4 separate regions of the Homo sapiens genome follow, and regions 2, 3 and 4 are each linked to region 1. The links come from fine-mapping of genetic effects on gene expression. A gene starts in region 1. Each other region holds a variant in brackets. All regions are shown on one strand. Distances are between the middles of the regions. Region 1 holds the start of CCDC171 (coiled-coil domain containing 171). Region 2 overlaps CCDC171 (coiled-coil domain containing 171). Region 3 overlaps CCDC171 (coiled-coil domain containing 171). Region 4 overlaps CCDC171 (coiled-coil domain containing 171).

Evidence for each region. PIP is the estimated chance that this variant, and not a neighbour inherited with it, causes the effect.
Region 2: its variant is fine-mapped to the expression of CCDC171 in tibial artery (GTEx, PIP 0.96).
Region 3: its variant is fine-mapped to the expression of CCDC171 in iPS cells (PhLiPS, PIP 0.95).
Region 4: its variant is fine-mapped to the expression of CCDC171 in prefrontal cortex (BrainSeq, PIP 0.95). The same link has a PIP of 0.9 or more in fetal neocortex.

The regions. Positions count from the first base shown.
Region 1 is chr9:15,549,552-15,557,819 of GRCh38, reverse strand. It overlaps CCDC171 (coiled-coil domain containing 171), which reads right to left and starts at 4,777. Exons shown (of 26, transcript NM_173550.4): 1 at 4,518-4,777. RefSeq lists enhancers at 4,470-4,639, 4,535-5,180 and silencers at 4,920-5,009, 5,020-5,079.
Region 2 is chr9:15,897,235-15,905,234 of GRCh38, reverse strand. The region is part of intron 24 of CCDC171 (coiled-coil domain containing 171); the gene reads right to left. Among named protein-coding and RNA genes, the nearest start is that of CCDC171, 350 kb to the right of the region's middle. The variant C/A (reference allele first, on the strand shown) is at 4,885.
Region 3 is chr9:15,604,563-15,612,562 of GRCh38, reverse strand. All of the region lies in intron 6 of CCDC171 (coiled-coil domain containing 171), which reads right to left. Among named protein-coding and RNA genes, the nearest start is that of CCDC171, 56 kb to the right of the region's middle. The variant T/A (reference allele first, on the strand shown) is at 3,575.
Region 4 is chr9:15,746,966-15,754,965 of GRCh38, reverse strand. All of the region lies in intron 18 of CCDC171 (coiled-coil domain containing 171), which reads right to left. Among named protein-coding and RNA genes, the nearest start is that of CCDC171, 200 kb to the right of the region's middle. The variant C/AC (reference allele first, on the strand shown) is at 4,927.

The sequences.
Region 1 (8,268 bases):
AACTGGCACAAGACAGGGATGCCCCCTCTCACCACTCCTATTCAACATAGTGTTGGAACTTCTGGCCAGGGCAATCAGGCAGGAGAAAGAAATAAAGGGTATTCAATGAGGAAAAGAGGAAGTCAAATTGTCCTTGTTTGCAGGTGACATGATTGTATATTTAGAAAACCCCATCGTCTCAGCACAAAATCTCCTTAAGCTGATAAGCAACTTCAGCAAAGTCTCAGGATACAAAATCAATGTGCAAAAATCACAAGCATTCTTATACACCAATAACAGACAGAAAGCCAAATCATGAGTGAATTCCCATTCCCAATTGCTACAAAGAGAGTAAAATACCTAGGAATCCAACTTACAAAGGAAGTGAAGGACCTCTTCAAGGAGAACTACAAACCACTGCTCAACAAAATAAAAGAGGACACAAACAAATGGAAGAACATTCCATGCTCATGGATAGGAAGAATTAATATTGTGAAAATGGCCATACTCCCCAAGGTAATTTATAGATTCAGTGCCATCCCCATCAAGCTACCAATGACTTTCTTCACAGAATTGGAAAAAACTACTTTAAAATTCATATGGAACCAAAAAAGAGCCCACATTGCCAAGACAATCCTAAGCAAAAAGAACAAAGCTGGAGGCATCACACTACCTGACTTCAAACTATACTACAAGGCTACAGTCACCAAAACAGCATGGTACTGGTAACAAAACAGATATATAGACCAATGGAACAGAATAGAGCCCTCAGAAATAATACCACACATCTACAACCATCTGATCTTTGACAAACCTGACAAAAACAAGCAATGGGGAAAGGATTCCCTATTTAATAAATGGTGTTGGGAAAACTGGCTAGCCATATGCAGAAAGCTGAAACTGGAACCCTTCCTTATACCTTACACAAAAATTAAGTCAAGATGGATTAACGACTTAAATGTTAGACCTAAAACCATAAAAACCCTAGAAGAAAATCTAGGCAATACCATTCAGGACATAGGCATGGGCAAGGACTTCATGACTAAAACACCAAAAGCAATGGCAACAAAAGCCAAAATTGACAAATGAGATCTAATTAAACTAAAGAGCTTCTGCACAGCAAAAGAAACTACCATCAGAGTGAACAGGCAACCTACAGAATGGGAGAAAATTTTTACAATCTACCCATCTGACAAAGGGCTAATATCCAGAATCTACAAAGAACTTAAACAAATTTACAAGAAAAAATCAAACAACCCCATCAAAAAGTGGGCAAAGGATATGAACAGACATTTCTCAAAAGAATATATTTATGCAGCCAACAGACACATGAAAAAATACTCATCATCACTGGCCATCAGAGAAATGCAAATCAAAACCACAATGAGATACCATCTCACACCAGTTAGAATGGCGATCATTAAAAAGTCAGGAAACAACAGGTGCTAGAGAGGATGTGGAGAAATAGGAACACTTTTACACCGTTGGTGGGACTGTAAACTAGTTCAACCATTGTGGAAGACAGTATGGCGACTCCTCAAGGATCTAGAACTAGAAATACCATTTGACCCAGCCATCCCATCACTGGCAGCCAGAGAGAAAGGTCAGGTTACCCACAAAGGGAAGCCCATCAGACTAACAGCGGACCTCTCGGCAGAAACTGTAAATCATGCTGCTATAAAGACACATGCACACATATGTTTATTGCGGCACCATTCACCATAGCAAACACTTGGAACCAACCCAAATGTCCATCAATGATAGACTGGATTAAGAAAATGTGGCACATATACACCATGGAATACTATGTAGCCATAAAAAAGGATGAGTTCATGTCCTTTGTAGGGAGATGGATAAAGCTAGAAACCATCATTCTGAGCAAAATATCGCAAGGACAGAAAACCAAACACCGCATGTTCTCACTCTTAGGTAGGAATTGAACAACGAGAATACTTGGACACAGGGTGGGGAACATCACACACCGGGGCCTGGCAGAGAGTGGGGGAAGGTGGGAGGTATAGCATTAGGAGATATACTTAATGTAAATGACGAGTTAACAGGTGCAGCACACCAACATGGCACATGTATGCATATGTAACAAACCTGCACATTGTGCACATGTACTCTATAACTTAAAGTATAATAATAAAAGAAATAAAAATAGATACTCAGTCACTTGACTAAAGTCACATCTCTCACATCTCTAGTGACAGGGTCAGGATTTACACCCAAGTTAGCTGACTCCAGAGCTCTGCTGTGTGCCTTGCTATTGGCCCTCAAGACACAGTTCATCCCAGTCAGGGAAGCATGTAAGACCTCACTTATCAGGGAAGCATTTCTGCTCTTTGCTGGAGATTTCTTAAAAATATCATTTTTCCCCGTATCGAAACTGACAAGCCATGGCCTTCTCAACAAAAGATTACTCAGACCTTCAGTCGATTCTCAATCCAGATAGCACCTTCACAGTTCTGGACCAAAACCAGGCCATCCTGTAGCAGTAATAGATAAAGAAAGGCAAGGTTCAAATTAGCTTTTTATGTTAATGTATTAATAGATTAATCTTTTTTTGATAGTGGAGTTGAACTAATCTCACCATTCCTACTAAAATAGATGATGGGATATTATGTGTATCATTCATCAATGAGAAGCATTTTTAAAAATAGATAAAAGGGTAATTGAGGCCAAGGGATCAGTGATCCCGACATCCTGAGAGGAGGTGCCAGCCAGAAAGGCGAATCTACTTTAGATTTCGGAGCCACTACTGGTAAAAAATTTTTCTACCTTACATCTGAGTCCTTCAGTTGGTCATCCCAAATGCACTCATCTTTCAGTGTGTCTGCACAGATCAGAGGAAAAACGAGGGATGGGTGGATGAAAAAATAGAAATTCCTATTATTGAGCCACTTACTATATGCCAGATACTGAGATCAGCATTCCTGATCTCATTTAATCCCAACATCTCTATGAGATTATGCACATTTCACAGATAAGAAAACTGAGGCTTGGAGATGTTGAATAATTTGTGTAAAAATATTCAGCCGGAAAATGAGAATTCAAATCCACATCTGGCTAAGTCCATCCTCTTTCACTACGCAGTGCTGTCTTCATTAGTAACCACACCTGTGTTGGAAGTGTTTCTCAGCATAGGTACATAATCAACCTTTAAAGGGGAAGTTTGGTTCTTACATCAAAACAAGACCAAGACCAAGGGACTGAGACAACCAAAACGTTTTAGAATCAAATGAGACTTTAGAGACTAAGTCCTTCCTCCTTATCTGACAGATAAAGAACCTAACGCCTAGGAAGGTTAGGTGGTTTGCCTGTGGGGACGCAGCTCATAAATGGCTGAGCCCCAAGACTAACACAGAAAGCTACAAACTAAGACTATGCCCTTCATCTTTCCTCTTAGCAGGTTGCACTGCCTTTGTTTCCTCTGCATTTTATGAAAAACCATGTTCATCTTCTGCTCTACCACTGTTTTGTTGAGAGTAGGAACTAACAGTTAAATAAAATAAGTGACATGCCGGGCGCAGTGGCTCACGCCTGTAATCCCAGCACTTTGGGAGGCCGAGGCGGGCGGATCACGATGTCAGGAGATCGAGACCATCCTGGCTAACACAGTGAAACCCCGTCTCCACTAAAAATACAAAAAAATTAGCCGGGCGTGGCGGCGTGCGCCGGTTGTCCCGGCTGCTGGGGAGGCTGAGACAGGAGAATGGCGTGAACCCGGGAGGCGGAGCTTGCAGTGAGCCGAGATCGCGCCACTGCACTCCAGCCTGGGTGACAGAGCAAGACTCCATCTCAAAAAAAAAAAAAAGTGACAAAATCGTATGTTCTTTTCTCCAATATTATGAAAACCATAAAACATCGGTATGTCATGTATTCAAAAGAGCTGGACACCAACTCTAATAAACAAAATAAAGACGTATTTATCTCATTTACCTAAAATGTATACATGAAATATGTATTTTCTTAGGATCAATATCATAATGGAATAAAAAAATTCAAAAAGTCGGCTCCATTTCTGCAGAAAATTTACAGCTTCGGGAAAACGCACAGCTGACTCAGATTCTAAGTCTCTCAGAGTCCTGGAGGGTAGGTAGAAGCTGCAGGTGACAGTCTAGCACAACTCATTCCCGTTTATCAAACATCTGTAGAGTGTCTAGTGTGTGGCCGGCATTTAAAAAGGGGAGAGCGGGCTGAAAGACGTGGTCCCTATCCTCGAGGGGCTTACTGATTCTCGGGAACGAAAGCGCTCCGCAGCAGTAACCCTAAGAAGCTCCAAATCCCGGTCCTCTGCCTCCCCTCTGGTCCCCATCCGGCGCTCTGGTACAGCCTCAGCGATCTCTGGCTAGGATGCTCCACGGAGATCTTCCTCCAGGTGGGCGGGGAGACCCAGCCCAGGGAGCTGGAGGCGTGCCCCAAAGCCTACGCCAACAGCCCCAGGGCCGCCCCAAACTCACTCAGGGGCCCCTACAACCCTCTCAACACCTCCCTCCCAAGTCGTCCGCCTCGAAGCCCCCACACCGTGCGGTTACCTCAGGGGTCTCGCGTGATCCGTGCTGCACACCCAAGACCCCAGGGGCCGCTCCAAGTCTCACGGGTGAAAGGAGGCCCAGGCAGCCCACGGGAATAAGAGCAAAAACTGTTGGAACACGACGGACTCCAGGACCCGGGAGGAGGGGGACAAACAGCAAAGGGGTACAGAAGGGGAAGAGCCCCCGGGAGGTGAAGTTTACAACTGCCACTTCCGGAGCTGAAAACACTCCGCTTCTCTCGCAGACCTTCCCAGACTTTCACAGGTCAGCCCAACTCAGGCCCGGCCCCACTTTTTCCTCCCGCCTCCCGCAGCCCTCAGCTTGCAGCTCCTGGATACGTACTCCGAGAACGCTGGCTCGGATTGGAAGAGCCCGCCCGCCAAGCAGCGCGCCTTCGCTGAGGGACGAACGGGCGCATGCGCCGTTGCTGGGGAGCGGCGGGCTCGCGACCGCACGCGCTCTCGCTCCAGGAGCTCCGCGTCCCCGCGCGGGGGTGCGCCCTGCCCACGCGCTGCTGTGGCTTTTCAGCGTGAGGTGTCCGCGTTCCTGTCTCAGTCGCCAGAGCCGAGTGGAAATGCAGATTTCCAGCTTCTAACCCCTTTTCCCTGCCTGCTGAATAAAAACCTAAGAGGTCGGATCCCAGATCCTGCTTTTTGAAACTGGTTCTTCTGCCCATCTTTAGAGCCACAGCAACGGTGGGCTGGTCCCGGGGCCTGGGGAGAAATTCTCTGGGCTCGGGTTCTGCCCAACTGCCTGGTTTACCTCTGTCTGGACAGCTCTCTGCCTGCACAGGGCATCCTGTCCCCTCTTCCCGTCCCCATTGTATCCCAGCTGGGAGTGGTGAGCAGGGTCGGAAGAATGCATTGATGCTGCTTGCAGTGCGTTTCATTATCAACATTACGTAACCAGGCACATCGTGGAAAACGCCTCGGAGCCTTAGCATGTGTGTTCCCTATCTCTTTCCTCGCTTCTCTCACTTTTCTCTGACACACACACACACACACACACACACACACACACACACACACACACCGTCCTCTTATTGATAATTTATACTTTGGTTCCTCCCGGTGGCTGCTTCACAATCTGCTGCCGCCTAAGGGAGACTGGAAAACCAACTCCTCTTTTGTTCCTTAACTTTTGAAAGCCTATTCTTCCAGAGAACAATGCAAATTGACAGGATTTGGTCAAAGATTTTTATCTTCACCACCACCACCTCCTCTGCACAAAAAGGTGTTTAATGCAAAACGAGCCTTCTATACTAAACTGGGTCCTTGTTGATTGTAATCAACCTGAAACCAGGTGTAGGGGCCGTCTTTTCTCTCTCCCATGGGAGAGCCAACGGTCATAAATGCAAACACAAATTGAGATTAAAACCTCCTTGATTCTTGTAGCACTGAAACCTTAATTGGTTTGATTTTAGTCATTTACATCTAAAACGGAGGCCTGTCCCTGATTCTTTTTACTAGAGCCATAAAGAGGACAATTGCTCCAGAGGAAATAAAGGGAAAAAATAGCCCACTCTAAAGTTTAGAAATGAAATGGAAAATTACAACTGACTAATGAGATTAGAACTTTTATGTTACAAGCTTTAAAAAATATTTTTAAATTTTATTTTTTTCTTTTTCTTTTTTTTTTTTTTTTTTTTGAAACAGGGTTGTTCTCTGTTGCCCAGGCTAGAGTACAGCGGCACAATCACGCCTCGCTGCAGCCTAGACCTTCAGGACTCAAGCCATCCTCCTGCCTCAGCCTCCTGAGTAGCTGGAACTACTTAAAATTTCATTTGTGTTGGCCGGGCGCGGTGGCTCACGTCTGTAATCCCAGCACTTTGGGAGGCCGAGGTGGGCGGATCATGAGGTCAGGGGACCGAGACCATCCTGGCTGACACGGTGAAACCCTGTCTCTACTAAAAATACAAAAAAAATTAGCTGGGCGTGGTGGCGGGCGCCTGTAGTCCCAGCTACTCGGGAGGCTGAGGCAGGAGAATGGCGTGAACCCGGGTGGTGGAGCTTGCAGTGAGCCGAGATTGCGTCACTGCACTCCAGCCTGGGCGACAGAGCGCGACTCCGTCTCAAAAAAAAAAAAAAAAAAATTATTTGTGTTTTAACAAAGTCACAAAAGTGAATATTGTATCGCAAGAATAAATGCTATGTACTATATTGTATGTTTTTGAAATGAAAAATGGATGTGATGTGAAGACCCGTTTTCATTTATTTGTTCATTCAGCATTTACAGAATACAGACTATGTACCCAACATGGAGCTAGATGATAGAAATACAGGGGAATATTGATATCAACCCTGAGCTCCCAGAAATGATTCATAGAAAAGAACTTTGAGCTTAGTTTAAGAAGACCGTTAAAGATTTATGAAGCTAACAAGGAACTAGAAGGAAGACACGGAAGCTGCAAACACCAGCATAAGAACCAGCACCAGACATTTGAAAAGCTGGAAAAAGCTGTCTGTGCAAAGGAGGTGTGAGCGATGAGGCTAGAGAAATATGCAGAACCCAGATCACAGAGGAATTTCTACATCATACTTAGGAGTTTATCAAGCAATGAAGCTAATGAAGGGTTTTAAGCAGAAAAAATATAAAAATTACACAATAAATCAGACCATTTCAAAATGCGTGGAGATTCTCTGTTGTCTTTTATTTGCTTAACATGCTACTACTACTTGAAAAAAGCTATATAAAGAGATGTTCTCCTACCCGCTTATCTTTTGGCCTCAACATCACTTCATTTCTCTCTCTTCTTTCTACCAATCCTTTTGAGATATGATTAGATTCATTCATTCACACCACTCTACCAATAGCTTCCAAAGTCAGTAGTGACCTCATTGCCAAATCTGAGACCCCTTGACTTTGCTGACACATGTTGATCCTCAGATGCCTCTCCAGCAAAGGTGAGACTCTATACTCCATTGTTTCTCCAACTCTCTGAACTTTCTGCTGCTGCTCAGGAAACCATTCTTCCCTTCCTGCCCCTCAAAGTGATATTTTCTCAGTTTCTGCCCTCAACCTTCCCATCGTTTGTACCAGATAAGCGTCCTCAGTGATGTCATCCATTCCTGCAAGTATGAACTCCATATCCCCAATATTCAACTCTTTATATCCATCTCTGACCTCTCCTGAGCTCTAGTTTTGAATTTTTAACCCCGGTTTGAACAGTGCCACTCTAATTTCTGGAAATACTTAATTTAATATAACTAAATTTTAATTATCTTTCTAACTTCTTGTGGGAATCCTCTAAACTACTCTCCCACCTGTTTATAAAACTTCTAATCTCCTAGACACCCAGGCAAGAAAAACCCTAAAAATTTTGTTTGCGTCTTTCTCTCTCAAACTCTCACTTCCTGCATGCAGGATTCCTACTTTTTCTCTAAACCTCATGTCTTCTTTCTGTGCCTACTTAGTACTAAGCAACTTCATTTGTCTGTTTCCTTATTGCTTCCTATTGAGACACTCATAATTAGGACCTTCCTTGTGGCCCAATGCAAGTCACTCACCTTCCCCTTCTGTGCAAATTCTTGACATTTTTAGAAGTTGACCATTAACATCTAGGGCATTTTTAAACTGGCATATATAAGAAGAGAGGATCAAAAAAATAGAAAAAAATCAAAAGCAGGTCTAAGAACACCTGTATCTTTATGAAACTAGGGGAGTGTAATAAACTGATTGTACGTATGTGAGCCTCAGAGTTTTAAAGCACCAGATGAACCACATTCTTTTGACCCTTCTGTAACCTCCCCTA
Region 2 (8,000 bases), 350 kb before region 1:
TGGTGCTGAGAAGAATGTATATTCTGTTGATTTGGGGTGGAGAGTTCTGTAGATGTCTATTAGGTCTGCTTGGTGCAGAGCTGAGTTCAATTCCTGGATATCTTTGTTAACTTTCTGTCTCGTTGATCTGTCTAATGTTGACAGTGGGGTGTTAAAGTCTCCCATTATTATTGTGTGGGAGTCTAAGTCTCTTTGTAGGTCTCTAAGGACTTGCTTTATGAATCTGAGTGCTCCTGTATTGGGTGCATATATATTTAGGATAGTTAGCTCTTCTTGTTGAATTGATCCCTTTACCATTATGTAATGGCCTTCTTTGTCTCTTTTGATCTTTGTTGGTTTAAAGTCTGTTTTATCAGAGACTAGGATTGCAACCCCTGCCTTTTTTTGTTTTCCATTTGCTTGGTAGATCTTCCTCCATCCTTTTATTTTGAGCCTATGTGTGTCTCTGCACGTGAGATGGCTTTCCTGAATACAGCACACTGATGGGTCTTGACTCTTTATCCAATTTGCCAGTCTGTGTCTTTTAATTGGAGCATTTAGCCCATTTACATTTAAGGTTAATATTGTTATGTGTGAATTTGATCCTGACATTATGATGTTAGCTGGTTATTTTGCTCGTTAGTTGATGCAGTTTTTCCTAGCCTCGATGGTCTTTACAATTTGGCATGTTTTTGCAGTGGCTGGTACTGGTTGTCCCTTTCCATGTTTAGTGCTTCCTTCAGGAGCTCTTTTAGGGCAGGCCTGGTGGTGACAAAATCTCTCAGCATTTGCTTGTGTGTAAAGGATTTTATTTCTCCTTCACTTATGAAGCTTAGTTTGGCTGGATAAGAAATTCTGGGTTGAAAATTCTTTTAAGAATGTTGAATATTAGCCCCCACTGTCTTCTGGCTTGTAGAGTTTCTGCCGAGAGATCCACTGTTAGTCTGATGGGCTTCCCTTTGTGGGCAACCCGACCTTTCTCTCTGGCTGCCCTTAACATTTTTTCCTTCATTTCAACTTTGGTGAATCTGACAATTATGTGTCTTGGAGTTGCTCTTCTCGAGGAGTATCTTTGTGGCATTCTCTATATTTCCTGAATTTGAATGTTGGCCTGTCTTGCTAGATTGGGGAGGTTCTCCTGTATAATATCCTGAAGAGTGTTTTCCAACTTGGTTCCATTCTGCCCGTCACTTTCAGGTACACCAATCAGATGTAGATTTGGTCTTTTCACATAGTCCCATATTTCTTGGAGGCTTTGTTTGTTTCTTTTCATTCTGTTTTCTCTAAACTTCTCTTCTCACTTCATTTCATTCATTTGATCTTCCATCACTGATACCCTTTCTTCCAGTTGATCAAATCGGCTACTGAGGCTTATGCATTCGTCACGTACCTCTCGTGCCATGGTTTTCAGCTCCATAAGGTCCATTAAGGACTCCTCTGCATTGGTTATTCTAGTTAGCATTCGTCTAATCTTTTGTCAAGGTTTTTAACTTCTTTGCCATGGGTTCGAACTTCCTCCTTTAGCTCGGAGTAGTTTGATCGTCTGAAGCCTTCTTCTCTCAACTTGTCAAAGTCATTCTCCATCCAGCTTTCTTCCGTTGCTGGTGAGGAGCCGAGTTCCTTTGGAGGAGGAGAGGCACTCTGATTTTTAGAGTTTCCAGTTTTTCTGCTCTGTTTTTCGCCATCTTTGTGGTTTTATCTACCTTTGGTCTTTGATGATGGTGACGTACAGATGGGGTTTTGGTGTGGATGTCCTTTCTGTTAGTTTTCCTTCTAACAGTCAGGACCCTCAGCTGAAGGTCTGTTGGAGTTTGCTGGAGGTCTACTCCAGATCCTGTTTGCCTGGGTATCAGCAGTGGAGGCTGCAGAACAGCGGATATTGGTGAACAGCAAAGGTTGCCGCCTGATCATTCCTCTGGAAGTTTTGTCTCAGAGGAGTACCCGGCCATGTGAGGTGTCAGTCTGCCCCTACTAGGGGGGTGCCTCCCAGTTAGGCTACTCGGGGGTCAGGGACCCACTTGAGGAGGCAGTCTGTCCGTTCTCAGATCTCAAACTCCGTGCTGGGAGAAGCACTACTCTCTTCAAAGCTGTCAGACAGGGACATTTAAGTCTGCAGAGGATTCTGCTGCCTTTTGTTTGGCAATGCTCAACCCCCAGAGGTGGAGTCTACAGAGGCAGGCACGCTTCCTTGAGCTGCGGTGGGCTCCACCCAGTTCGAGCTTCCCGGCTGCTTTGTTTACCTACTCTAGCCTAGGCAATGGCGAGCGCCCCTCCCCCAGCTCGCTGCCGCCTTGCAGTTTGATCTCAGACTGCTGTGCTTGCAATGAGTGAGGCTCCGTGGGTGTAGGACCCTCTGAGCCAGGCACAGGATATAATCTCCTGGTGTGCCATTTGCTAAGACTGTTGGAAAAGTGCAGTATTAGGGTGGGAGTGACCCAATTTTCCAGGTGCCGTCCGTCACCCCTTTCTTTGACTAGGAAAGGGAATTCCCTGACCCCTTGTGCTTCCCAGGTGAGGTGATGCCTTGCCCTGCTTCAGCTCATGCTCGGTGCGCTGCACCCACTGTCCTGCACCCACTTTCCAACACTCGCCAGTGAGATGAACCCGGTACCTCAGTTGGAAATGCAGAAATCACCTATCTTCTGCATTGCTCATGCTGGGAGCTGTAGACTGGAGCTGTTCCTATTCAGCCATCTTGGCTCCACCTCAGTTATTTCTTTATAGCAATGCAAGAATGCCCTAATACAGTTGTGTTTACTAAATCAGGGAATTCATGTTTCAATACTACCTATCAATCAAACAAAAGTTGTAATTTAAATTTTGCCTAGAAAATTTCCAACTTCCCTGAATTAATCAATTATTCTTTAACAAAAACCTTTTATATTAAATACTTTCTACATTCGTAACAAAAGTTCAAAAGACACTGTGGCTAGAAAATTACATTTCTGAAATTTTTATGTGTGTGTGTGTGTGTATATATATATATATATATACATATATATATATATATGAATTTTATAGCTTTGTATCATTTTGAGAAAAAAAGTCCATAATTCTGGAAATATTTCCAAACAACTATTTTACAATGTTTTCTCTGCAAAACTCAGAGCAGTTAGTTTTTATTTTTTTACAAATGTCACTTTACCTTGAAGTGACAGAGTATGTGTTTAATATCTTCTAGCTAGAATGTTTCTGTTAGCCACTTGCCATCAAAGAAAAGTTCTACAGATTTGTAACCCTCATCTTTTTTGAAAGAAAATTGCATAATTCTTACACAAGTTCAAGAGTACTTTGAAGCATGCTGTCACAACAGTGAACTTTACAGAGAAGATTTTAAAGTCTCTCATCTCATTATAAACTATTATAAAGACTGTACTATGTAAAATAATTTAATATATAGATTCACTTAACAGTTACATACATATTTTCATGTTGAAACACAAAAGTAAATAAATGAGTAATGATGCCACTTTCAGCCCCTCTACATTGCAAAAGCCTTCCACTCTTCCTTGAACGTACCTTACAGGACACATTAATGTTTAACAAATAGACCAAGTGAAGACATCAGTGCCAAACTATAGTAAAGAATACATATGTTATTTCTTACTTTATAAATAAGGTATAATTTATTATCTTGTATAATTAATGGCATGTATTTATAGTCAACAAAGTGAGTTAAAATAAAAAAAATTATAGGATGTCCACAGATAGATTTTATGGTATATTTACTTTTTAAATAGACTATTTTTAGAGCAATTTTAGGTTCACAGAAAAGTTGAGCATGAAGTACAGAGAGTTCCCATACATGCTCTGCCCCTATACACATAAACCCTCTTTCATATCAATACCCTCCTACAAAGTGGTACATTTATTGCAACAAAAATGAACCTATGCTGACACATCACTATCACCCAAAATCCACAGTTTACATTACGGCTATTGGTGTTGGACATTCTATGGGTTTTACAAATGTATAGTGACATGTATTCACTATTATTAGTATCACACAAAATAGACTCACTGCTCTAAAAATCCTGTGTTCTGCAGATTCATCCCTCGCTCCCCTCTAACTCCTGGCAACCACTGATCTTTTTCATTTTCTCAATAGTTTTTATAATTACTTTTTAATGTTTCTCTTAAAACCTTTAAAAATCATACCTTTAAAATTTTCTTTTTCTATGTTATGGAGCATATTTAATAACAACACATATATAAGTTATTAAGGAATGAATGTATATATGTTAGGGAAGCTGACTTAAAAATAAGAGTGTGCTATGAAAAAGTTTGGAGACTACTCCCCTGTGGCATCAGGTGACTAACTGTAGATGTACACTGGAAGCAACTGAGCTAGTTGACTCTTCCCGTACTTAGGGCTGTGCAGGGTGGCAGCAGCTGGGTTTGTCCCCAGAAACAAAAACCATGAGTAAGGACCCTAGAATCAGGAAAGCAGAGCAGAGCCTAAGGAAGCTTCCAAACCCAGAAGACAGTCTATCTATTCACTGTGTCTCACAGCATGTATGTCCTACTTCTTTCCCTCACACCCAGATGTAAGCTCCAATAATCAAAATCTACATCTACAAAGAAGCATAAAAGCAGCACCTCACTCTAGGGTATTGAAATCTGTATTGCATGCTGCATAACAAATTACCAGAAACTTAAAGGCTTAGAACAACACAAATTTATTATCTCTTAATTTCCATGGGCCAGGAGTCCAGCATAGGTTAGTGGGGTCCTCTGCTCGGGTGTCTCAGCAGGCTGAAATCAAGGTATCATCTGGAGCTGTGATCTCACCTGAGAAGCAGAGTCCTCTTGCAAGCTCATTCAAGTTGGCAGAATTCACTTACTTGCCATTGTGAAAAAGAAGTCCCCATTTTCTTGCTGGCTGTCACCCAGGATCACTCTCTG[C/A]CCCTAAAGGGCATACTCAGCTCCTTGCCAAATGCCCCCACCGCCCTCTTTCAACATGGCTGTTTGCTTTCCTCCAGTCCCTCAGAAGAACATCTCTCAGACACCTTGGCTTCTTGAAAGGAGTCACCTGATTAGGTCAGGCCCATCCAGGACAATCTCTTTTGATGAGTAACCTAATCACAGGAGTGGTATCCATTACATTTACTGGTATCACCCACCATCGAGGGGAGAAGACTAATTTTATAGCAGATGTACAACATGGGAAAGGACAAAGGGGTCATCTTAGAATTCTGATTACTGCAGCCTGAAACACTCCTTATACCAAAACTAACTCAAAATTGATCATAGATTTAAATATAAAACATAAAGCTATGAAACTTTTAGAAGAAAATATATGAAAAAATCTTTGGGATCTCGAGCTTGGTAAAGAGTTCTTAGACACAAAATCAAAAGTGTGATCAATGAAAGAAAAAAACAATAAACTGAACTTCATCAGAAACTATTCATTAAAAATTATTGCCATGAAAAAAAATTCTGTCACAAAGAGTAAATGACAGAGAAAAAATATTTGCAAACCACACATCTGATAGTTTCTAGAATATATAAACAACTCTCAAAACTCAACAGTAAAAAGACAATTCAATTAGAAAATGAGCAAAAGGCACTAAGATACATTTTACGAAAGAGAATATACAAATCGCAAATTTTATCAAAAGAGAATATACAAATAGCAAACAGGCACATAAAGATATTTTCAAAAATCACTAAGCACTAGGGAAATGCAAACTTAAAACCATAGTAAGATATCACTACACCTATCAGAATGGCTAACAGAAAAAAAGTGGGATAACACCAAGTGCTGGCGAGGAAGCAGAGAAACTGGATCTCTTAAAGATTCATAGTGAGAATGAAAAAAATGGCAGTCATTCTGGAAACAGTTTGACAGTTTTTTAAAAATTAAATGTAACTTACATATAGCTAGGCAATCACATTCCTCAGTACTTATCCTAGAAAAATGAAAACTTGTGCCCAAACAGAAACTTGCATAAAAATGTTCAATGCAACTTTATATGTAATAGCCGAAATCCAGAAACAACAAAATATCCTTCAGTGAATGAATGGCTAAACAAACTGTGATACATCCATACCACGAAAACAAGTCACCAATAAACTATTAATCAATATTGACAAATAAAGGAATAAACTATTGATATATGCAAAAACTTGGATGGATCTCAAGAGCATTACACTGAGTGAAAAAGCCAACTCAAAAAGTCACATTCTGTATGACTGCATTTATATTACATTATTGAAATGACAAACTTATAGAAATGGAAACTATTTAGTGGCTGCTATGAGTTAGGGATGATGGCAGGACAGGGGGTGATATGTCCATAAACTGGTTACTTGAGAGAGAATTTTGTTGGTACCTTTCTGTATCTTGATTGTGGTAGTGTCTATACAAATATACACATGAAAAAATGTCACAAAACTGTATTTACCCATTGTACTAATGCCAATTTTCTGGTTTTGACATTTTCCTAAACTGATGTAAGATATAACAATGGGGAAAGCTGGATAAAGCGTACACAGGGACCTCCCTGTGCTATTTTTGTACTTTTCTGTGAATCTATAATTATTTCAAAATAAAAGGGTAAAAAAGCAAATATATAGCATTCTAATATTTAAAAGGGAAGATATACAAATTTATAGACATGTCTATATTTATTTTAGAAACAAATAAACAAGAAGAGAATAAAACATTAAAATTTTGTTTAAATGATACTGATTTAGCGGGCAAAGGCATGGACTAGACCAACCAGTCTTCTGCACATAACTTCTTATGCAGATACTTGAATAAAACGACCTAGCATTTTGCTCATCACACTCAACATGAGAGATTATCAGATACTAGTCTATATTTGCTCACTGACTGTGATAGCAACACCAGCTATTCTGAGACCCTCTGCAGCCTGTTGCCTCAAAAGAGTCAATGTAATCTGAGGGGTATATGCACTCAGCTCAATTCTCCACTCAAAGGCAAACCCATGTAAGCCCCAAAGGAGGTGAACCCCACACTCTACAATCAGGAATTGCCAAATAAGTTAGAATGTATGGAAGTAAATAAAGCCTATGCTCTTACCAAATCTTTGCTCAAAGGTTTTCCAGCTTCCTCTGTAGTTCCCATGTTCCAGGGTTTGCCTGGACCCTGGTTATAACAACAGCTACTGCAGGCCAGACACCATGTTATAAGCTTTGCGTATTTTTTCTAATTCTGACAATAATCCTGTAGGTGTATTGGTGTTACACCAGGATTATAGCTGCCTTCCAATAATGCTGTAAGACTCATATTATCTTTATAGACTAAGAAACTGTGGTTCAGTGATGCTAAGTACCTTGTCCAGTGTCACCCAGTTAATAAAGAGCAGAATTGGGATTCAAATCCATGCCTGTCCAATTCCAAAGCCCATGTTCACTCAATGTGTTCCAAGTTTCCTGGTTTGATTTGGACTGGTTGATGTTTGTTTATTTGTTTCTCAGTGAAATCAGTAGACTTAATCCAGGCTTTCCAAGTTTCATAAAGTGCACAGCTAACTTATTACAACATTCATATAACAACAATTGAATCCATATTCTCTCTTTTATTGATCCATGTTCTCTCCTTTATTAACTGAAAAAGATACAAAGCAAACCCCTTTTGAATTTTGCTATGACACCAGGATTTTCAAAGATCTCACAATCATTAATAAGTATTACTCTGCATTGACTCTGAGCTACAGATTTTTGTTTATGTAAATAAATATTTCAAATAAAAGAACTTCAAATGATATTTTCTTGGGAACTTCATTCATTCTGTAGTTGTTCAATAAACATTTGTAACAAAATAATGAATCTCTATTCTATCAAAGCATGCCATATAACTTCCACACTTCCATCAAAACATCTTTTGATGCTAAAAACATACATAATTTGGAAGAAGACTTAGATTTTTTTAATGGGAAAAAATTAAGCTTAGAAATTATAGCAAATCATCTATTATCCACACAATAGATGACTTGGAAAAAAGGAAAACAACTTCTGGTATACTCGATTAACTTATACATGTAAAATGATAA
Region 3 (8,000 bases), 55 kb before region 1:
AACCAGAATTCAAATATGAGATGAAAAGTGAGACTGCAGTTCTATCAGAAGATCATAAGTTAAAAAGAACACCAAGAGGGGACCACTAAACAGATATGATTAAACATAGCTAATCATCTCTCCTAAAACACCACTTAAATGAAAGTAAAAAATAAAAACAAATGGCAGAAACAATGAATGGTGGAGAAAATGATAGCCAACAAAAGATGTCAGGAGCAAATTTGGAAGACAGAAAGCAAACTGACAAGTGATAATGACTTAGGTTTCAGCTTTTTCATCTTTTCTAAATGCGGAAAAAAAGAGAAGCCTAGTAGCAAGCTGATTTACAGCCACAAAAGCTCAGAATTTGGAGGCACAATGTCTTAGTCCATCCAGCCTGCCATAACAAGATATACCATAAACTAGGCAGTTTATAAAAAACAGAAATGTATTTCTCACAGTTCTGGAAGATGGGAAATACAAGATCAAGGTGTTGGCAGATTCAATGTCTGGCAAGAGCCTACTTTCTAGTTTATAGAGGATGCTTTCTATCTGTGTCCTAACATGGTGGAAGGCAAGAACTCTGGTTCTTCAGTCCCTTATAAAGGCACCAATTCTACTTAAGGTTTCCACCATCAAGACCTAATAATCTCCTGAAGACCCCACCTCCTAATACCATCACAATGGCAATTAGGTTTCAACATACAAATTTAGGAGGGACACAAACATCCAGACCCTAGCAAAACAGCTAACCTTGAAGCCAAGCTATATAGTAAAAATGAATACAGGAGCATTGTTGGAAGCCTCTATAACCAGTACTTTACACTCTCGGGTTGCCTCTGCCAGCTCCCTCCCTGAAAAATCCCCCTCCATATCCTGGTAAAAGGAAGGAGTTTACAAACTAGAGGTTGATCAAAAGAGGTTCTGACGATATGAAAAGCAAACACAACTGGGGGTTGGGGTAAGACACCTTATTAAAAATAAGGAGATTAAGCAACATCTGCATAGTGGGCAGTTAGACCTCACAGCGCCCTGAGCACTGACTCCTACACTCATAGCAATATAAGGAGGAGACGGAAAGATTTCTTTCTAGGGAAACTACCAGGCCAAGAAAAAAGACATCGTAAGGTTCCCTAATTCAATGCAAGGGCTCCACATCCAAAGAGCTTCTTCTCATCTTTTTAGTGCCTCATTCTTAAATATAAACACACAGTCTAGAATCACCGGACATTTGCGGAAAGGTTCTTGTATTAGGCTGTTCCTGCATGGCTATAAAGAAATATGTGAGAATGGGTAATTTATAAAGAAAAGAGGTTTAATAGGCTAACAGTTCTGCAGGCTGTACAGGAAGCATGATGCTGGCATCACTTGGCTTCTGGGGAGGCCTCAGGAAATTTACAATCATGGTAGAAGGTGAAGGGGGAGCAGGCACGTCACATGGCCAGATCAGGAGCAGGAGGAAGGAGGCGCTACACACTTTTAAATGACCAGATCTCGTGGAGCTCATTCACTACTATGAGGATAGTACCAAGAGGAATGGTGCTAAACCATTCATGAGAAATCTGCCCCCATGATCTCCTCCCACCAGGCCCTATTTCCAACACTGGTGATTACATTTCAATATGAGATTTGGGCAGAGACACACATCCAAAATATATCACTTCTCATGTGAAACTCAGAGGCTACTACAAAATGAAGCCAAACACTCAGAGAAAATAAAGACCAGGCCGGGCACAGTGGTTCACACCTGTAATCCCAGGATTTTGGGAGGCCAAGGCGGGATGACCACTTGAGTCCAGGAGTTCAAGACCAGACTGGGCAACACAGTGAGACCCTGTGTCTACAAAGAACAGAAAAAATTAGCCAGGTATGGTCGTGCACACCTGTAGTCCCAGGTATTCGAGAGGCTGAGGTGGGAAGATGGCTTGGGACCAGGAGGTTTTTGTTTTTTTTTTTAGACAGAGTTTCACTCTTGTCACCCAGGCTGGAGTGTAATGGCACCAGCTCGGTTCACTGCAACCTCCGCCTCCCAGGTTCAAGTGATTCTCCTGCCTCAGCCTCCCGAAGTAGCTGGAATTACAGGCACCCACCACCACGCCCAGTTTTTTTTTTTTTTTTTTTTTTTTTTTTTTTTTTTTTAGTTGAGATGGGGTTTCACCATGTTGGCCAGGCTGGTCTTGAACTCCTGATCTCAGGTGATCCACCCGCCTTGGCCTCCCAAAGTGCTGGGATTACAGGCATGAGCCATCGCGCCCAGCCGAGCCCAGGAGGTTTAAGCTGCAGTGAGCCATGATCGAGCCACTGCATTTCCAGCCTTTGCAGCAGAGCAAGATCCAGTCTCAAAAACAAGAAGAAAGAAAAGAAAAGAAGACAAGACCATCAAGGGAGGGGTGGGGGGAGAAACACCTTCAAAATAAGTATGACTTATATCCTCAAAGAGTTAAATTAAGACATTACAAACATGAAACAAGGAGAATATACTAAGAAAGGTATCATCAAATAACAAGAATGAGCTTAGAAATTAAAAACCCAAAAGATGAAATAAAATGTAATAGAAAGGCTGCAATATAAAATTGAGAAAATCTCTCAGAAAATAAGAGTAAAAATATAAAAAGATGGAAAATAGAAGAGATAAGCATTATAAGGATGTCAACTTTATGTCAAAATGATCTATAAATGCAATCCAATTTTAATCAAAATTACAGGAAGGTCTCTTGATGGAATACAATAAGCCATTCCTGAAACTCACATAGGGAAGTAAAAAGCCAAGAATAACCCCTCCCTCACCCCTAAAAAATATTAAGAATAAAGACAGAGGAAAGTTCTCTACCAGATATCAAGACTTATTCTAAAGGTATAATGAATAAAGCAATTTAGTACTGATGCAGAAACAAACATGTAAGTGAAACAGAACAGAGTACCCAAGAACAAAATCTTAGATATAAAAGAACTTGATGTATGATGGAAATGACACTATAAATCAATATGCGGTAAAAGAACAGACAATTGAATAACTAGTACAGGGACACTTGGCTATCTATTTGGAAAAACAAAATTAGATCCCATCTCATGCTATATACGCATTATCTTTATGACTTTGGGTTATCTAAGACAAAACAATCACAACTATAAAAAAATATACTGATAAATTCAACTACATTAAAATTTAAAACTAGGCCAAGTGCGGTGGTTCACGCCTGTAATCCCAGCACTTTGGGAGGCCAAGGCGGGTGGATCACCTGAGGTCAGGAGTTCAAGACCAGCCTGGCCAACATGGTGAAACCCCGTCTCTACTAAAAATAAAAAAAAATAAAAAATTAGCTGGGCATGGTGGCAGGCACCTGTAATCCCAGCTACTCGGGAGGCTGAGGCAGGAGAATCGCTTGAACCCGGGAGGCGGAGGTTGCAGTGAGCCAAGATCACACCACTGCACTCCAGCCTAGATGACAGAGCGAGACTCCGTGTCCAAAAAAAAAAAAAATTTTAAACTGTTCATCATACATAATGTAAATTGCCTCTCTGTCTCTACAAAGAAGAAAAAGATGTTTGCAAAAGGAATATACATAACCAAGGGTTAGTTACTAAATATATTTTT[T/A]AAAAAAAAACCACTCTTTTTTTTTTTTTTTTTTTTTTTTTTTTGAGACAGGGTCTTGCTCTGTAGCCCGGGCTGTGATCATAGGACAATGCAGCCTTGACCTCCCAGGCAAAAGCAATCCTCTCACCTCAGCCTCCCTAGTAGCCAGGATCACAGGTATATGCCACTACGCCTGGCTAATATATATACTTTTTTTTTTTTTTCATAGAGAGAGTGTCTCTGTTGCCCAGGCTGGTCTCGAACTCCTGGGCTCAAGCAATTCTCCCACCTCAGACTCCTAAAATGCTAGGATTACAGGCAGGAGCCACCACCCCCAGCCAAAAGTTCCTATTAATCAATAAAAATATACCCAAAAATCCAAAAGAAAAAAGGCAAAAAATATAAGCTGGCACTTCACAAAAAAGAAATGTGAATGGCCAATAAACGTAACATGGTCAATGTCAAGGAAGTGGAAATTTAAGCAAGAATGAGATACAATTTCACACATATCCTATTTCAAAAGAAATTAAATCTGAAAAATACCAAGAGGCTGTAAAGGAAGAGAAACTCTTCTTTGAAATTGTTACACCCACTTAAGAGAACAATTTGGCACATATTTTATACGCACTAAATACATACCCACATAAAAAGATGTGATGTTCATGGAATCACTGTCTGTAATAATTTAAACTTGCAAAGAACTTAAATCTCAATGTCAGTGTTATGGTTTGAATGTGTGTCCCTTCCAAAACTCATGTTGAAATGTAATCCCCCATGTGACAGTTTTGAGAAGTGGGGCCTTTAAGAGAGGACTGGGTCATGACAGCTCTGCCCTTGTGAATGGGTTAATCCAATCATGGATTAATGGGTTAATGGGTTATCATGGCAGTAGAACTGGTGGCTTTACAAGAAGAGAAAGAGAGACCTGAGCTGGCACACTCAGCCCACCAGCATGCAATGCCCTGTGCAGCCTTGGACCTCTGCAGAGTTCCCATCAGCAAGAAGGCCATCGTCAGATGCAGTCCCTTGACATTAGATGTCTCAGCCTCCAGAACTGCAAGAATAAATTCTTTTTCTTTATAAATTAACCAGCTTCATATATTCTGTTATAAACAACAGAAAATGGACAAGGCAGTCAGGTAATGAGTAAATTATGGCACACGCACAAGATAAAATATTATACAGCAGTTAAACTGAATGAACAGAAGCTATTTTATTAACTTTAACAAACCTCAAAAATACAAGCAGGCCAGGCATGGTGGCTCACACTTGCAATACCAGCACTTTGATAGGCCAAGGCGGGTGGATCACTGGAGCTCAGGAGTTCAAGAATAGATTGGCCAACATGGCGAAACCCCGTCTCTACTAAAAAATGCAAAAATTAGCCAGGTGTGGTGACACGTGCCTGTGGTCTCAGCTACTCAGGAGGCTGAGGTGGGAGGATTGCTTGAGCCCAGGAGGCAGAGGTTGCAGTGAACCAAGATCGCGCCACTGCACTCCAGCCTGGGTGACAGAGTGAGACCCTGTCTAAAAGAAAAAAAAAAGTGAAAAATATAAGTTTGACAAAGAAGCATCCTGTATGATATTCTAATATATATCCTAAAACAAAAATACTAAAATAATACAATATACTGTCAATGTATACAGACAGAAAATTAAACACCAACTTCAGAATGGCAGTTATTCTTTTGGGGCTGAAGTTGTGGCAGGATGGGGAAGTGACTCAGAATTGTCTTCAATGATATAACAATTTACTGTTTGTTTCCAGTTCCAGTAAACATAACACACACTAACATGATCTAGGTAGCATTTGTTACATTAATGGTATTGCTGGGTTATATTGGGCATTGAGTATATATAAATCCCTGGGGGGGTTGTATGTTCAAATATTTGCTTTAAGTTTATGGCTTTATCAATATCATCCAATCCTGAGATGCAATGTAACACTCAAGAAAATCCAAAAAAACTACAAAAATACCTCATGCAATTTACAGAAAAACTTGCCTTCATCCCAAATAAATGTAACTTTAAAATTTTTGTTACAGAACATATTTTCCAATCACACCAAAAGCTACCTGCATCTTTATTATGTGTGTCTGTGTGTGTGAAATAAAATCATATTAAGGACACTGGAAATTGAGGGAAGTTCTTCTTTTTTCCACTAGAGGGGGCTGTTGAACTTAAAATATTTTAAAATGAGGCTTGTTTTTGAACTGACATTTAATATCACAGGAAACTACATTTGGCTGTTAGAAAATAAACTTGCTTTCTTTCCACATCTTCCAGAAACGTAGCCCAAAAAGTATAATTCTTTATATATACTCATATAAACAACATTTCTCAGAATCCAAAATACAGTTCCGTTCCAATTCTGAAGAATTACACTAGTTAGAAAAGTATCAGAGTTAAATGTACTCCTCTTTTCTAGCTTATAAAATATATCAATATAGCTAACTACAACCTTAATCTATTACATTATTATCTCCTGAAAGACCCAGAACAAGTTCCTCCTCTCTAAGTCCCCAAGGCTAGCAAAGTTCTACAATTACAAAGTGTTTGTTGCTATAGAGCATAAACTGGTGCTTTGTATAACATTTATCATAATTGTGAATCCATAAGCTTGAAAATGAAACAATTATATTTCTAGGCATTTACACGAAGAATCATTTGTATGACTGCTCAAAGATATGGACAAGAATGTTAGTGAATCATTAATTAGAGCTAAAAATTTTGAAAGAAATAAAATGTGCATCAATAAGAGATTACTGAAATACAATATTCCCTCTTATCTGCGGTTTCATCTTCCCTTTCAGTTACCCTGAGTCAACCTAGGTCCAAAAATAAGTGAATACAGTACAATAAGATATTTAGAGTGGGAGAAAGACCACATTCACATTACTTTTATTATAGTATCTTGTTATGATGGTTCTATTATTAGTTACATCGTTAATCTCTTACTGCGCCTAATTTATAAATTAAACGTTATCATAGGTATGTGTGTGTATAGAAAAAAACACAGCATATCTGCAGTTTCAGGCATCCACTGGTGTCATGTAACATATGCCCCACAGGTAAGGGAAAGGCTACAGTATGTTAGGAAAATCCACATGACAGAATGCCATGCAAATACTAAAAGAATAAGGTATGAACATCAAAAGATGGAGGCAAAATATTATTGAGGTGTATCATTTTATTTATGTAAAAACGTAATGCTTCTATATCCTGACATGAGGAGCGAAATCAGAGGTGAAAGGGGCAAGACCCTTACTTTCTTGCTTTTAAATTTCCCTAAATTAGGGACTTTTTTTTTTCTTTTTTTTTTTTTGACAGAGTCTCGCTCTGTCGCCCAGGCTGGAGTGCAGTGGTGCGACCTTGGCTCACTGCAACCTCCACCTCCTGGGTTCAAGCGATTCTCCTGCCTCAGCCTCCTGAGTAGCTGGGATTACAGGTGCGTGCCACTACTCCCGGCTAATTTTTTTTTTTTTTTTTTTTTTAGTAGAGACAGGGTTTCACAGTGTTGGCCAGGATGGTCTCAATCTCCTGACCTCATGATCTGCCCGCCTCAGCCTCCCAAAGTGCTGGGATTACAAGCATGAGCCACTCTGCCCGGCCAAATTAGGGGCATTTTTATAACAAAGTTATCAGTGTCAGAGTCCTTTTCTATGCCATTTGTTAATAGGATACCAGTACATAGTTTTCCAGAAGAAAAGAAATGCTCCTTGCTGCCCTTGATTATTTAAGGTAAACTTCCTTAAGGTGTTTACCTGTCATACATGTCAACATATGTTAATGTGTTACATAAATAAAATTATAAGCCAGGTGTGGTGGCTCACTCCTGTAATCTCAATACTTTGGGAGACTGAGGCAGAAGGATCACTTGAGCCCAGGAATTCAAGACCAGCCTAGGCAACAAAGGAAGACCCCCATCTCTACAAAAATTTTAAAAATTAACCAGGCTTCGTGGCACATGCTTATGGTCCCAGATACAAAGGAGGCTGAGGTAGGCAAAGGCTGCAGTGAGCTGTGATAGTCCCGCTGCACTCCAACATGGGCAACAGAGTGAGACCTTGTCTCAAAAATATAAAATAATAAAACAAAATAAAATTATATTCCTAATATTTTGCATCCATCTGTTGATGTTCATATCTTATTTCTGTGTGTATTTGCATACTATTCTGTTACGTGGATATTCCTAAAAACACTTTCTTTTCACGTAACTTCCTCCGAGTTGTCACTACATCACAATCATACTTACTGGGTCAGCTTTTGATATGTTGCACCCCAATCCCTGGATTGTCTTAAGGCCTATCAGACCATGCCTACTAAGGGTGGTCTGATAACTTTCTTCACTGCCTCCCTACTCTTCCTCCTCTTTCTATAGTTCATGGAATTATTTTCAAGCTACACTTCCCATACCGTCACAAACTCCCCCATGCTTCAATCACTA
Region 4 (8,000 bases), 200 kb before region 1:
ATAACATTTAAATTACCTTGAAATTCTAAGATCAACCAATGTATTTTCATTTGACCTTATTTTTTACAAAATCTATTTATTATTCTGTTAATGCAATAAATATTAATAATGACCAATATATGAACTAAGCAAAGCAAGCAAACCAGTAATCAAAGACTCTTCTAAGCACTTTAAAAATGTATTCATTTAGTCTTCTAAATAACTCTATGAGATAGGTAAAACTACTTTCCCCATTTTATATATAAACAAATTGATGCACACAGGATTTAAATAACTTGCCCAAGGTCACACAGCTAGTGTCAGAACCAGTATTCAAAGTCAGGCAGAATTCCTGCTTAACCCTAAAGTATTGCCTCCCCTGTAGAGCAGCTTAGCAATTTTAGGATAGAAGATTAATAATTAGTAGCCTGAAAATGTATAAAGGGGTGTGTGTGTGTATGCGCATGTGTGCTCATTTATGTTATACTCTACATTCACAGTGAGATGAGTAATAAGGTGACAACTATTTTTTTACCACCCACCAACTGCCAGGTATTATACACAATGCTCAAAAAGTATTATCTCACTAAATCCTTGGAACATCCAGGAGGAAGATAATATCTTCATTTATAGGCAAAGAATCTGAGACCCAGTAAAGTTAAATAACGTGCCCAGTTTCACACAACTGATAACTAGATAACTGATAACTACATTTGGATACAAAATCAAATCCGCTTTGTTTAAAGCTAATGCTCTCTCTACCATACAATAATGTTTACCTGTTTAGGTTATTCATATGCTAAATTGGAAACTCCACATGACTATATAAGCTCTTATGGTTTTATATTTATTACTGTCATTATTCTCTCTTCATAACTACTCATACGCTTTAACTTTCTGAAAATATGTTCCCATCCTTTCTGTCAAAATACCTGAAATTTCTACTACAAAAATATAACTTAAAATGAAAACACATGACCCTGGAAAAATATTATATAAACAAACCCCTCATCATGTTTGAAGAAATTATTCTAAAAGCTCAGATGGTCAAGTTATATCCAGAGAGGGTCCACACTGATAATTTTGTGTCAGTCCAATAATATTCCTTTATCTACCTGTATGGACCATATTCCTTCCAATATTCCTCATGACTGTGATACATCAATAATTCTCTTGCTTTAATTAACAATCACTTACTCTTCTCAAAGTCGTGTTTCTTAGCGAACAAACACTTAAAACTTACCCTAAAAAAAAGTTTTCCTGAACCTGCTATTTCCTCTAGCTGTAAGAGGCACAGCCAGATCTAATATCAAAGGCACCTCTGCTCCTAGACTTAGGCAAGCATGTAAAGACACCACCTTCTACTTGATAAATCTTACCTATGCATATCTTTATCAGGGTCTTAATTATTGTGTCAATATTTTAACATTGAAAGTGTTGTAAGGGGCCACTTTTGTAATGTGCTCAGAGGAAATTACTGCCTAGTTTTATAAAACCTCTGTAATTTGACCCCATGCCAATGATACATCTCTCTTCCGATATGAATAATGGAAAATATCCTTTATTAATCACTATCTATAGGCCAGGTCTGCTAGGCACGGATTTTCAATCTCATCCTTTTAATGTCTGTTCCTTCCATTCTATGTTTATTCCCACAACTGCATCTCTGCTTAACCATGCCCTTCATCTGAATGCCATCTCTCCTCTCTAACTTGCCATCATTCTAAGTCTAGCTAAATCACAAGCTCCTCCCTGAAGTCTTCCCTATACTCATAAGCCCACAATGAGCAGCACCTTCTGTAGATTCTTGTAGCATTAAAAGCCTGTATCTCTTCATCTCACCCTTAATTACATTCTGCTTGAAGTCGCTCATGAGTTGTCATTATTGTTCTCTAACAACTGTGCGTATTAGCGTCAGACCAATTCACACATTTTTATTTTATCTCCTAGAATATATACATAACACAGTGACAAGAAAAAATACATTAAATAAATTAATAACATAAACAAGAAGATAGCTTAAGAAACCAATCTACTTTTAAGCGTCATACTTACAAAGAATATTAGTAACATAAATCACCTTTTTCTTTTTTTATATATGTACTTTAAGTTCTGGGGTACATGTACACAATGTGCAGGTTTGTTATATAGGTATATATGAGCCATGTTGGTTTGCTGCACCCATCAATTCATCATTTACATTAGGTATTTCTCCTAATGCTATCCCTCTCCCAGCCCACACCCCCGACAAGCCCTGGTGTGTGATGTTCTCCTCCCTGTGTCCGTGTGTTCTCACTGTTCAACTCCCACTTATGAGTGAGAACATGCGCTGTTTGGTTTTCTGTCCTTGTGATAGTTTGCTGAGAATGATGGTTTCCACCTTCATCCATGACCCTGCAAAGGACATGAACTCATCCTTTTTGTGGCTGCATAGTATTCCATGGTGTACATATGCCACATTTTCTTTATCCAGTCTATTATTGATGGACATTAGGTCGGTTCCAAGTCTTTGCTATGGTGCCGCAATAAACATATGTGTGCATGTGTCTTTATAGTAGCATGATTTACAATCCTTTCAGTATATACCAGTAAGTGGAATTGCTTGGGTCAAATGGTATTTCTAGTTCTAGATCCTTGAGGAATTGCCAAACTGTCTTCTACAATGGTTGAATTTACACTCCCACCAACAGTGTAACAGCGTACCTATTTCTCCACATCCTCTCCAGCATCTGTTGTTTCCTGACTTTTTCATGATCGCCATTCTAACTGGTGTGCGATGGTAACTCGTTGTGGTTTTGATTCGCATTTCTCTGATGACCAGTGATGATGAGCATTTTTTCATGTTTGTTGGTTGTATAAATGTCCTCTTTTGAGAAGTGTCTGTTCATATCCTTTGCCCACTTTTTGATGGGGTTGTTTTTTTCTTGTAAATTTGTTTAAGTTCTTTGTAGATTCTGGATATTAGCCCTTTGTCAGATGGATAAATTGCAAAAATTTTCTCCCATTCGGTAGGTTGCCTGTTCACTCTCATGATAGTTTCTTCTGCTGTGCAGAAGCTCCTCAGTTTAATTAGATTCCATTTGTCTATTTTAGCTTTTGTTGCCATTGCTTTTGGTGTTATAGTCATGAAGTCTTTGCCCATGCCAATGTCCTGAATGGTACTGCCCAGGTTTTCTTCTAGCGTTTTTATGGTTTTAGGTCTTACATTTAAGTCTTTAGTCCATCTTGAGTTAATTTTTGTATAAGGCGTAAGGAAGGGATCCAGTTTCAGCTTTCTACATATGACTAGCCAGTTTTCCCAGCACACTTATTAAATAGGGAATGCTTTCCCCATTGCTTGTTTTTGTCAGGCTTGTCAAAGACCAGATGGTTGTAGATGTGTGGTGTTATTTCTGAGGCCTCTGTTCTGTTGCATTGGTCTATATATCTGTTTTGGTACCAGTACCATGCTGTTTTGATTACTGTTTTGAAGTCAGGCAGCCTGACACCTCCAGCTTTGCTCTTTTTGCTTAGGATTGTCTTGGCTATGCGGGCTCTTCTTGGTTCCGTATGAAATTTAAAGTAGTTTTTTCCAATTCTGTGAAGAAAGTCAGCGGCAGCTTGATGAGGATAGCACTGAATCTATAAATTATTTTGGGCAGTATGGCCATTTTCACGATATTGATTCTTCCTATCCATGAGCATGGAATGTTCTGCCATTTGTGACCTCTTTTATTTCGTTGAGCAGTGGTTTGTAGTTCTCCTTGAAGAGGTCCTTCACATCCCTTGTAAGTTGGATTCCTAGGTATTTTATTCTCTTTGTAGCAACTGGAAGTGCATGGGAGATCACTCATGATTTGGCTCTCTGTTGGACTGTTACTGGTGTATAGGAATGCCTGTGATTTTTGCACATTGATTTTGTATCCTGAGACTTTGCTGAAGTTGCTTATCAGCTTAAGGAGATTTTGGGCTGAGACGATGGGGTTTTCTAAATATACAATCATCTCACCTGCCAACAGAGACCATTTGATTTCCTCTTTTCCTAACTGAATACCCTTTCTTTCTCTTGCCTGATTGTCCTGGCCAGAACTTCCAATACTGTGTTGAATAGGAGTGGTGAGAGAGAGCATCCTTGTCTTGTGCCGTTTTTCAAAGGGAATGCTTCCAGCTTTTGCCCATTCAGTATGATATTGGCTGTGGGTTTGTCATAAACAGCTCTTATTATTATGAGATACGTTCCATCAATACCTAGTTTATTGAGAGTTTTTAGCATGAAGGGCTGTTGAATTTTGTCGAAGGCCTTTTCTGCATCCATTGAGATAATCATGTGGTTTTTGTGGTTGGTTCTGTTTCTGTGATGGATTATGTTTATTAATTTGCACATGTTGAACCAGCCTTGCATTTTTGATGTGCTGCTGGATTCGGTTTGCCAGTATTTTATTGAGGATTTTTGCATCAATGTTCACCAGGGATATTAGCCTAAAATTCTCTTTTTTTGTTGCATTTCTGCCAGGCTTTGGTATCAGGATGATGCTGGCCTCATAAAAGGAGTTAGGGAGGATTCTCTTTTTCTATTGATTGGGTAGTTTCAGAAGGAATGGTACCAGCTCCTCTTTGTACCTCTGGTAGAATTCGGCTGTGAATACATCTGGTCCTGGGCTTTTTTTGGTGAGTAGGCTATTAATTATTGCCTCAATTTCAGAACCTGTTATTGGTCTATTCAGAGATTCGACTTCTTCCTGGTTTAGTCTTGGGAGGGTGTATGTGTCCAGGAATTTATACATTTCTTCTAGATTTTCTAGTTTATTTATGTAGAGGTCTTTATAGCATTCTCTGATGGTAGTCTGTATTTGTATGGGATCAGTGGTGATATCCCCTTTGTCATTTTTTATTGCATCTATTTGATTCTTCTCTCTTTCTTATTAGTCTTGCTAGCAGTCTATTTTGTTGATCTTTTAAAAAAAAAAA[C/AC]AGCTCCTGGATTCACTGATTTTTTTTAAAGGGTTTTTTTGTGTCTCTATCTCCTTCAGTTCTGCTCTGATCATAGTCATTTCTTGTCTTCTGCTAGCTTTTGAATCTGTGTGCTCTTGCTTCTCTAGTTCTTTTAATTGTGATGTTAGGGTGTTGATTTTGATCTTTCCTGCTTTCTCTTGTGGGCATTTAGTACTATAAATTCCCCTCTACACACTGCTTTAAATGTGTCCCAGAGATTCTGGTATGTTGTGTCTTTGTTCTCATTGGTTTCAAAGAACATCTTTATTTCTGCCTTCATTTTGTTATTTACCCAGTAGTCATTCAGGAGCAGGTTGTTCAGTTTCCATGTAGTTGAGCGGTTTAGAGTGAGTTTCTTAATCCTGAGTTCTAGTTTGATTGCAGTGTGGTCTGAGAGACAGTTTGTTGTGATTTCTGTTCTTTTACTTTTGCTGAGGAGTGTTTTACTTCGAATTATGTGGTCAATTTTAGAATAAGTGTGATGTGGTGCTGAGAAGAATGTTTATTCCTTTGATTTGGGGTGGAGAGTTCTGTAGATGTCTATTAGGTCCGCTTGGTCCAGAGCTCAGTTCAAGTCCTGGCTATCCCTGTTAATTTTCTGTCTCGTTGATCTGTCTAATGTTGACAGTGGAGTGTTAAAGTCTCCCATTATTATTGTGTGGGAGTCTAAGTCTCTTTGTAGGTCTCTAAGAACTTGCTTTATGAATCTGGGTGCTCCTGTATTGGGTGCATATATATTTAGGATAGTTAGCTCTTCTTGTTGAATTGATCCCTTTACCATTATGTAATGGCCTTCTTTGTCTCTTTCGATCTTTGTTGGTTTAAAGTCTGTTGTATCAGAGACTAGAATAGCAACACCTGCTTTTTTTTTTTTTGCTTTCCATTTGCTTGGTAGATCTTCCTCCATCCCTTTATTTTGAGCCTATGTGCATCTCTGCGTGTGAGATGGGTCTCCTGAATACAGCACACCAATGGGTCTTGACTCTTTATCCAATTTACCAGTCTGAATCTTTCAACTGGAGCCTTTAGCCCATTTACATTTAAGGTTAATATTGTTATATGTGAATTTGATCCTGTCATTATGATGTTAGCTGGTTATTTTGCCCGTTACTTGATGCAGTTTCTTCATAGCATCTTAACAATTTGGCATGTTTTTGCAGTGGCTGGTACCAGTTGTTCCTTTCCATGTTTAGTGCTTCCTTCAGGAGCTCTTGTAAGGCAGGCCTGGTGGTGACAAAATCTCTCAGCATTTGCTTGTCTGTAAAGGATTTTATTTCTCCTTCACTTAAGAAGCATAGTTTGGCTGGATATGAAATTCTGAGTTGAAAATTCTTTTCTTTAAGAATGTTGAATATTGGCCCCCCACTCTCTTCTGGCTGTAGGGTTTCTGCTAAGAGATCCGCTGTTAGTCTGATGGGCTTCCCTTTGTGGGTAACCCGACCTTTCTCTCTGGCTGTCCTTAACATTTTTTCCTTCATTTCAACTTTGGTGAATCTATCGATTATGTGTCTTGGGGTTGCTCATCTCGAGGAATATCTTTGTGGTGTTCTCTGTACTTCCTGAAATTGAATGTTGGCCTGCCTTGCTATGTTTGGGAAGTTCTCCTCGATAATATCCTGAAAAGCGTTTTCTAACTTGGTTCCACTCTCCTCGTCACTTTCAGATACACCAATCAAACACAGATTTGGTCTTTTCACATAATCCCCTATTTCTTGGAGGCTTTGTTCATTTTTTTTACTCCTTTTTCTCTAATCTTGTCTTCTCGTTTTATTTCATTAGTTTGATCTTCAATCACGGATATACTTTCTTCCGCTTGATCAAATCTGCTGCTGAAGCTTGTGTATGCTTCATGAATTTCTCATGCTGTGTTTTTCAGCTGCATCAGAAAATTGAGGCCCAGAGAGGTTAAGTCACTTGCTCAGAGTAATGCATTTGAAGCCTGGCAGCTTCAACATGATGGTCATTTATGTTCTTCTCTACACTGGTTATTCTAGTTAGTCACTCGTCTAACCTTTTTTCAAGGTTTTTAGCTTCCTTGCAGTGGGTTAGAACATGCTCCTTTAGCTCGGAGAAGTTTGTTATTACTCATCTTCTGAAGCCTACTTCTGTCAACTCGTCAAAGTCATTCTCAGTCTAATTTTGTTCCCTTGCTGGTGAGGAGTTGTGATCCTTTAGAGGAGAAGATGTGTTCTGGTTTTTGGAATTTGCAGCCTTTCTGCTCTGGTTTCTCCCCATTTTGTGGTTTTATCTATCTTTGGTCTTTGATGTTGGTGACTTACAGATGAGGTTTTGGTGTGGATGTCCTTTTTGTTGATGTTGATGCTATTCCTTTCTGTCTGTTAGTTTTCCTTCTAACAGGCTCCTCAGCTGCAGATCTGTTGGAGTTTGCTGGACGTCCAGTCCAGACCCTGTGTGCCTAGGTATCACCAGCGGAGGCTGCAAAACAGCAAGTATTGCTGCCTGATCCTTCCTCTGGAAGCTTCGTCCCAGAGGGGCACCTGCCAGATGCCAGCCAGAGCTCTCCTGTAAGAGGTGTCTGTTGGCCCCTACTGGGAGGTGTCTCCCAGTCAGGCTACACGAGGGTCAGGGACCCACTTGAGGATGCAGTCTGCCCGTTATTCGAGCTTGAACACCATGCTGGGAGAACCACTGCTCTCTTCAGAGCTGTCAGGCAGGGGAATGTTTAAGTCTGCAGAAGCTGTGCCCACAGCTGCCCCTTCCCCCAGGGGCTCTGTCCCAGGAAGATGAGGGTTTTATCTATAAGTCCCTGAATGAGGCTGCTGCCTTTTGATCAGATATGCCCCATCCACAGAGCTGGAATCTAGAGAAGCAGTCAGCCTTGCTGAGCTGCGGTAGGCTCCGCCCAGTTTGAGCTTCCCGGCAACTTGGTTTACACTGTGAGCATAAAACCACCTACTCAAGCCTTGGCAATGGCAGACGCCCTCCCCCCGCCAAGCTCCAGCATCCCAGGTCATTCTCAGACTGCTGCACTAGCAGCAAGGATTTCAAGCCAATGGATTTTAGCTTGCTGGGCTCTGTGGGCATGGGACCCG